Homo sapiens: one gene and its partner. The protein of the gene in region 1 purifies or fractionates together with the protein of each later gene. This does not show direct contact. Each region holds a gene or a part of one and is shown on either strand. Other genes may lie near its edges.

Evidence for each region. The genes of interacting proteins can lie anywhere in the genome.
Region 2: the proteins of CDKAL1 (region 1) and DNM1 purify together in Homo sapiens (affinity purification with mass spectrometry; one large-scale study listed by BioGRID and IntAct). This does not show direct contact.

The regions. Positions count from the first base shown.
Region 1 is NC_000006.12:20,537,251-20,541,096, forward strand, and holds part of CDKAL1 (threonylcarbamoyladenosine tRNA methylthiotransferase), read left to right. Parts: intron 1-3,846. UniProt on the Homo sapiens protein: Catalyzes the methylthiolation of N6-threonylcarbamoyladenosine (t(6)A), leading to the formation of 2-methylthio-N6-threonylcarbamoyladenosine (ms(2)t(6)A) at position 37 in tRNAs that read codons beginning with adenine.
Region 2 is NC_000009.12:128,223,879-128,227,378, reverse strand, and holds part of DNM1 (dynamin-1), read right to left. Parts: intron 3,129-3,500; coding exon 2,990-3,128; intron 1,345-2,989; coding exon of another isoform or gene 1,206-1,344; intron 1-1,205. UniProt on the Homo sapiens protein: Catalyzes the hydrolysis of GTP and utilizes this energy to mediate vesicle scission and participates in many forms of endocytosis, such as clathrin-mediated endocytosis or synaptic vesicle endocytosis as well as rapid endocytosis (RE).

The sequences.
Region 1 (3,846 bases):
ACATACTTCAGTTCTACTCTTGGAGATTCTAATTCAGAATGGAACCTGGAGATTTGATATGATGAAAAGCTTCCCGCTGGGTGCAGTGGCTCACGCCTGTAATCCCAGCACTTTGGGAGGCCAAGGCAGGTGGATCACCTGAGGTTGGGAGTTCAAGACCAGCCTGACCAACATGGTGAAACCCCGTCTCTACTAAAAATACAAAATTAGCTGGGCGTGGTGGCAGGTGCCTGTAATCCCAGCTACTCGGGAGGCTGAGGCAGGAGAATTGCTTGAACCCAGGAGGCACAGGTTGCAGTGAGCCGAGATCGTGCCATTGCACTCCAGCCTGGGCAGCAAGAGTGAAACTCTGTCTCATAATTACAAAAAAAAAAAAAAAAAGCCTCCCTAATAACTCACCTATGTAAGTAACCACTGCTCTAGGATATTGCATCCTCCTTCTTCCTATCATTTTGAGTATTTTCCTTTTCACTGACTCTATTTTTATTCCCTTTATCAAATTTGATTTCCTCTACCTTTGAGAAAAATTTTTAATGATCCTTTTGCTCCATTTAGCTATTACGCTGCTTTCCTTTTATTCTCAAACTTTCATTTCCATATGATTTAATTAAAAATTTCTGAAGGCTAAACAATTCCCTCTATCAGTCTATCAGTTTGTTCAAAGTAAAACCTTTAGCTTATTAATAGTGATGAGTGAGATTATTTAGGTACTTATGATATACAGCCAGGTTTATGCTACATAATGCTGATATGCAGCGTTATATTTATCTTTTTTGAGTGAATATCTCCAAATGAAATTGCTGGCTCGAAGGATATACATATGTTTGGTATAATTGTCAGGTTGCCCTCCAGAAGGGGTGTACCAGTTTTTCTGTGCTTTCAGCTAACAGAGTTTTTGTCAGCTTTGTATCAGTGAGGCAGCTGAAAAATAACTTATTGTTTCAATACTTGTTGTTAGTGTGGTTGAGCATTCTTTCCTCTTTTTTTTTTTTTCTTTTCTGGGTATTTGTATTTCTTAAGTGAACTGCCTGTTTTTCCTTTACGCATTGTTTTCTGGAATGTGGTTACTTATTAGTGTCACATTAGATTCTTGCATTGTTTGTACTTTGCCAGTGAGGCAAAGCCATAGTGGGAAGAGCATGGTATTGAGAGGATGCCAAGGTTCTGATTTCTAGCTCTATCAATGTACAAATCCTTTTGCTTCAGTGGACTCCAGCTCTGTAAGATAAGAAGCTTAGCAACTTCTGCTTCTCTAACTCTAATGATATGGGATGTCTATTGCAGTGGATTCCTTTCATTCCTCTTTTTCCTTTCTATTTCTCTTCAGTGGATCCATACACACTTGTATATGGGATGGCAAAATTGTGTAATTAAAAAATATGGCTTTTAATTAATGTTATTTAATTATTCATGATCTGTCAGTAGTTCTTCCGCATTCCAAAGGCACTACCTGGTCCTAGCCTCTCTCATTTAATTATTTCATAGAAGAGTGGTGATAGAAGAAATCCTAGGGGTTGGGCATTTACTTCAGCTTCCCACCCAGTGTAGAATTTCCTGCTGTGTCATAGAAAGACTAGCTAAATTCAACTTAAGCATTGTGTTCATTCATTTAGTCAGTAACTATTGTGTGCCTGCTATGTGTCAGGCATTGTTAGAGGTGTTGTAGAGACAGTACTGAAAAAGAGATGATGCCTTTGTGCTTAACAAGCTTACATTGTAATGAGGAAGATACAATTATATATGTGGTGTCAGGTAGGTAAGCACAATGAAGAAACATGAAACAAAAGCAGGGTTAGAAGCAGTGAAAGTGTGGGCATGCTTGGGCAGCGTGGTTATTTTAGATAAGGTAGTAGGAAAGGCCTCTCCGAGGAGATGTTGTTTGAGTGAAGAAGTGGGTGGGAAGACATACTTATCTGGGGGCTGATATTCTGGCAGAGGAATAGCAATTATGAAGGCTCCCGAGTCAGAAACTAATTTGGCATACTCAGAATATCTATATCCATATATTGCCCGACTGTGTAGTCTGCAGTAAAAGTATTTATTGAGAACCTGCAATGTGCTAGACATAGTTCTAGGCACCTGGGATAAAACAGTGAACACCTCACACGAAAACCTTTACCCTCACGAAGTATGTATTCTAGTAAGATAAACAGTTAAAAAATTATTAAAACATTTTAAGCAGATGATTAAATGCTACAGTTTAAAAAAAGGCAGGAAAGGGGCATAGGAAGAGGGTGTGTGGTGAGGTGGGGGTGTTGGTTGGAAAGTCCTCTCTTGTTACACTTGAGCAAAGTCCTTAAGGGCTTGAGTGAGTGAGCCATTCAGGTGTCTTAAGTAAGAGCATTCCAGGCAAGAATAAGACTGTGAAATGAATGCATATCTAGTGGGTACGAAATAACAAAGCCTGCATGACTGAGGGGAGCGTGGTAGGAAGTGGGGCCAGAGATGCAGCAGGAGGCTGATTATATATGTCATTGCAGATCTTTGTAGTGATTTTGGCTTTTTACTCTGATATGGAATACCACTGGAAGGGTTTGATTGAGAAGCTTGAGATGAACTTAGGTTTTAAAGGGATCCCTGACTTCTGTGCTGAAAATGTTCTTGTAGAGTTTAAGGATAGAAGCAAGGATATTAGGGATTGCAATAATCCAGACAAGAGGTGATGTTGGTTTGGACCAAGAGTGTAACAGTGGGTATGGTCACAAATAGATTCTGAATATATTTTGAAGGTACAGCCAACAGGATGTTGTTGATTGATTGGATTTAGGGTGACAGAAAGAGGGGAGTGCAGGATTTTTGGCCTGAGCAGTAGAAGATTGGGATTGTCTTTTTTTTTTTTTTGAGACAGAGTCTCACTCTGTTGGCCGGGCTGGAGTGCAGTGGTGAGATCTTGGCTCACTGCAACCTCTGCCTCCTGGGCTCAGGCAATTCTCCTGCCTCAGCCTCCCAAGTAGCTGGGGTTACAGGCGCTCGCCACTATGCCTGGCTAATTTTTTGTATTTTTAGTAGAGATGGGGTTTCACCATGTTGGACAGGCTGGTCTTGAACTCCTGACCTTGTGATTCACCCACCTCGGCCTCCCAAAGTGCTGGGATTACAAACATGAGCCACTGCGCCCAGCCAGGATTGCCATTAAATGAAATGGGAGAAGTTGTAAGAGGATCTGGTAAGGTAGGGAGAAGATCAGGAATTCTGTTTCGACTTTGACTTTTTTTTTTTTTGGGATGGTGCTTCGCCCTTTGTCGCCCAGGCTGGAGTGCAGTGGTGCAATCTCAGCTCACTGCAACCTCTGCCTCCTGGGTTCAAGCGGTTCTTCTGTTTCAGTCTCCCGAGTAGGTGGGATTGCAGGTGCCCACCACCATGCCTGGCTAATTTTTGTATTTTTAGTAGAGACGAGGTGTCACCATGTTGGCCAGGCTGACCTCCAACTCCTGACCTCAGGTGATCCATCCGCCTCAGCCTCCCAAAGTGTTGGGATTACAGGCGTGAGCCACCATGCCCAGCCCTGTTTTAACTTTTTAAGTTTGAAGGAATTATTAGACATTCAAGCAGTGGTGTGGAATAGGCAGTTGAACGTCTGAGTCTGAAGCTCGGGGGAAGAATGGGGCTGGTTATGTAAGCATAGACGTAGTTCATATTTCAAGGCCATGGGACTGGATGAGGTCACCTAGGGAGTGCCTGAAACTAGAGAAGAGTTCCTGTAACAGAGCCATGGGGGCATTCTAATGGTGAGAAGTTGGAGAGATGAGCAGAGGAGACTGGAGCTAGGAGAGTGTGGCATCCTGGAAACTAGTGCAATTTCTTACTGCAGTTCTTCAGTCTTTAATAATGCACACTGTGAATGGG
Region 2 (3,500 bases), on another chromosome or scaffold:
AAAGGCATGAGACCAATCTTTATGTAGCAACATACAAGGATTACACAACACACTGCTCAGTAAAAAAGAATGCGCGGTGGCTCATGTTTGTAATCCTAGCACTTTGGGAGGCCGAGGCAGGTGGATCACCTCCGGTCAGGGGTTCAAGACCAGCCTGGCCAACGTGGCAAAACCCCATCTCTACTAAAAATACAAAAATTAGCCAGGTGTGGTGGTACATGCTAGTAATCCCAGCCACCCGGGAGGCTGAGGCAGGAGAATACTTGAACCCAGGAGGCAGAGGTTGCAGTGAGCCAAGATGGTGCCACTGCACTCCAGCCTGGGCGACAGAGCAAGATTCCATCTCAAAAAAAAAAAAAAAAAAAAAAAGGAATGGAGATGATTGATGCTTATTTGAAACTCAATGCTAAGGTGGATGTGCCTCCACCCACCAGCATAGGGAAGTCCTTCAGATATAGGTGAGGCTGGGCTCACCCCTGGCACCTCTGATTTAGCCTGCTGGAGAAGCTCCTGCAGGCAACTGATTCTCTCGCACTCCCCTGGGAAGAACTGCTTTAGACAACCTGGCTAAAAATCCTCAAAATGCCCAAAAGCAGACAAATAGGAAAAAGGCATCTAAAAAGTCACAGACAACTCAAAAGAGACCGCCCCTGTCTCTCACGCACGGATTACTGTAAAGTGAGTAATCCAATATGCTTTCAGGCAAATTGGTTTTGAGGAACTAGGACAGCTCCCCCTGCCCAGGAGGCCCTGACCTCAGACCCCTTCCTCTGTCCTTCCTAAAACTGAATCACACTCTGCTTCTCTTTTCTGAGACTCTGTTTTGCCATCTGCAAAATGGGAATAACAACACTACCCACGTCTTAGGGTGGTTGAGAGGACTGAGTCAGATAGTAAGGGCAAGCACTTAGCGTGTGCTTGGCACATAGTAGGTGCTCAGTAAACAGCTGCCATCTCCTTAACATCATCTTCATCACTAGCATAGGTGCCACCAAGGAGGCTTGGGTTGGAGTCAAGTCTTCTGGGATGGGGGCCTGGAGGGGTCATGAGTGCAAGTACCCAGGGTTAGAAACTGGCAGGAAACACTAGGGCTGGGTCCCTGCGGGTAGCCGTGAGGCCGGCTCAGCAGATCCTTCTGCCCACGGGAGGCTGTGGCCACAAGGAATGGACGGCCAGGCCCAGCCCCGCCCAGGCGGCCGTCATACCTTTTCGCTACACTTTCTGATGGTGGCTGTGAGCTCACTGACTACCATATCCACACACTTGATACTGGGCTCTTTGAGCTTCTGCACCTGCTTTTTCACTGTGGCTTCAAAAGCGAGGTCAGGTGTGAAGAGGCCCGTCCTGCACCCGGGGAGGAGGTGGGGACAGGAGGAGGAGCAGCCGTGGGTGGGGAGGAGAAGTGGGTGAAAGCCAAGCAGAGACAGGAATCCAGGGGTGGAGAGGATGGCACGGGCACGGGGGAAGAGAGAGAGACATCGACACAGATAAAGAGAGAGAGAGAACAGAAGACAATGTGAGCGTGGGACCGGCCCTCCCTTGCCACCCGGGGTTGGCACCTCCCAGGTGCTGCCAAGCATCCCCTGGGCTCCATAGGTATGGCCAGAGGTACGAGGGACCAAGCCCCTGCTCCGTACAAGACCCCTATTGAGTTCAGATCCTCTTCCCAGGGATGCTCCCCTGCTCCTCGGCCTCACTGAGGCTGCCTGCTCTCTCCCAGTGCCGTCTTTGTCCACAGCCTTGGGTTCTCCTAAGGAGCTGACCCAGGCCAGGACAAGGCCAGGACCTCATCCACCCATCCTGTTCAATTCTACGTTTCCCAGTGTCCCAGAATTTGCTTCATCCTGACTCCAAACCTCAGTACCATTCCCTATCTCTAGGGTTGCCGCATCCAGCTGCCCAGGCCATGCACTGCACAACTCCAGGGGGGTCCATTCCCGTAAACCGTGGCGCAGAGGCTGCCTCCTAGGGTTGCAGTATAGCAGCCTGACCTCCCTCTCCAGCTCCCTGCTCTAGTCCCGCCCCTCCCTTTCTCTTCAAGGGGCATTCCTGGCCTCTCCTCCACAGGGGTTTGGTGGAACCAAAAGACAGAAAGAGAAGAGGAAAGACAGAAAGAGTAGAGGTAGTGATAGAGAGGGGCCGGGACAGCAGTGGGGAGAGGAAAGGAAGGGAGGCTGGAGGGTGGAATCGAGGAGCACTGGACTTGGAGTCCAGAGCCGTGGCTTCAAGTAACAGCTCTGCCACCTCCTGACTACTGTGACTTGGGCAAGCCACTTGATCTCCTGGAGCTTCAGTGTTCGTGCTGTGAAATGGGCACCGTCCTCCCTGTCCTGCCTCCCTGCGTGCTTCTGTGAGGCTTGGATGGTGGGGCAGATGGGAGAAGGGCTCTATCCCTGGAAAGCCAGATGTGGATGGAAGGGAGGGAGAGGCCCTGAGTGAGGGTCTTACGTGAGCATCCTGTGTGAGGGTCCTGAGTGAGGGTGAGATGAGTATGGGGAGGATGAAGGACAGCGGGGAGCCAGGGCACCTGCTAGTCCTGGGTCCTCTGCACCCCCTCTGGCCACCCAGGCCCACCGAGCAGTGCCCGAGAAGGCCCTGCATTTCACCTGTCTCCAAGGCTAAGGTTTCCCCAGACCCCTCCCTGGAGCTCCCAAAGATGACACCTCCGAGGACAGGGAGGGGGCTCAGGGTCCCCTCAAGCCCTATTCTCTGAGCTGGGGGAGCTCTTGGTGGGCTCTTGGGGTAAACAGCCAGCCATCATCCCCGTCTCACCCATGTCCAATCCCTGGGTCCCCAGACCTGGGGGCCAGGGGTGGGTGAGGCCCTCTCAGAGGCACATTGTCTCCTATTCAGTGGTGGCCTGCCTCCCCACCCCGCTGAGGTCTGTACATGCTACCGAGGAGGCAGGGGGGGACATGGGGAAGGAGCGCCTGGCAGCAGTGCAGGGCGGGGCAGAGGCGGTGGGGGCTGGCCCGGGCCTCCGGGTTACCTTCTTGGTGCACTGTCTAACGGTGCTGATTAGCTCCGAGATAACCATGTCCACACACTTGAGACACGGTTCTCGGATCTTCTTCACCTGCTTTTTCACAATGGTCTCAAAGGCCATGTCTGGGGTAAACAGCCCCGTTCTGAACGCCCGGAGCGGGAGAAGGGCAGAGTGTCACAGGCCAGTGCCGGCCAGGAGGGCCAGGCCGAGGCTCCTCCCCAAGCCCACGAACTCTGCCTGAGGGGCCCTTCCACTACCCCTCTCTGGGCCTCAGTGTCCCCAGTTGTAAAATGGGAGGGAGGGGTTCTAATGAAGGGTTTTTTGTTGTTGTTGTTATTTTTTTTGAGACGGAGTCTTGCTCTGTCGCCCAGGCTGGAGTGCAGTGGCGCAATCTTGGCTCACTGCAACCTCCGCCTCCCGGGTTCACGCCATTCTCCTGCCTCAGCCTCCCAAGTAGCTGGGACTACAGGCGCCTGCCACCACGCCCGGCTAATTTTTTCGTATTTTTAGTAGA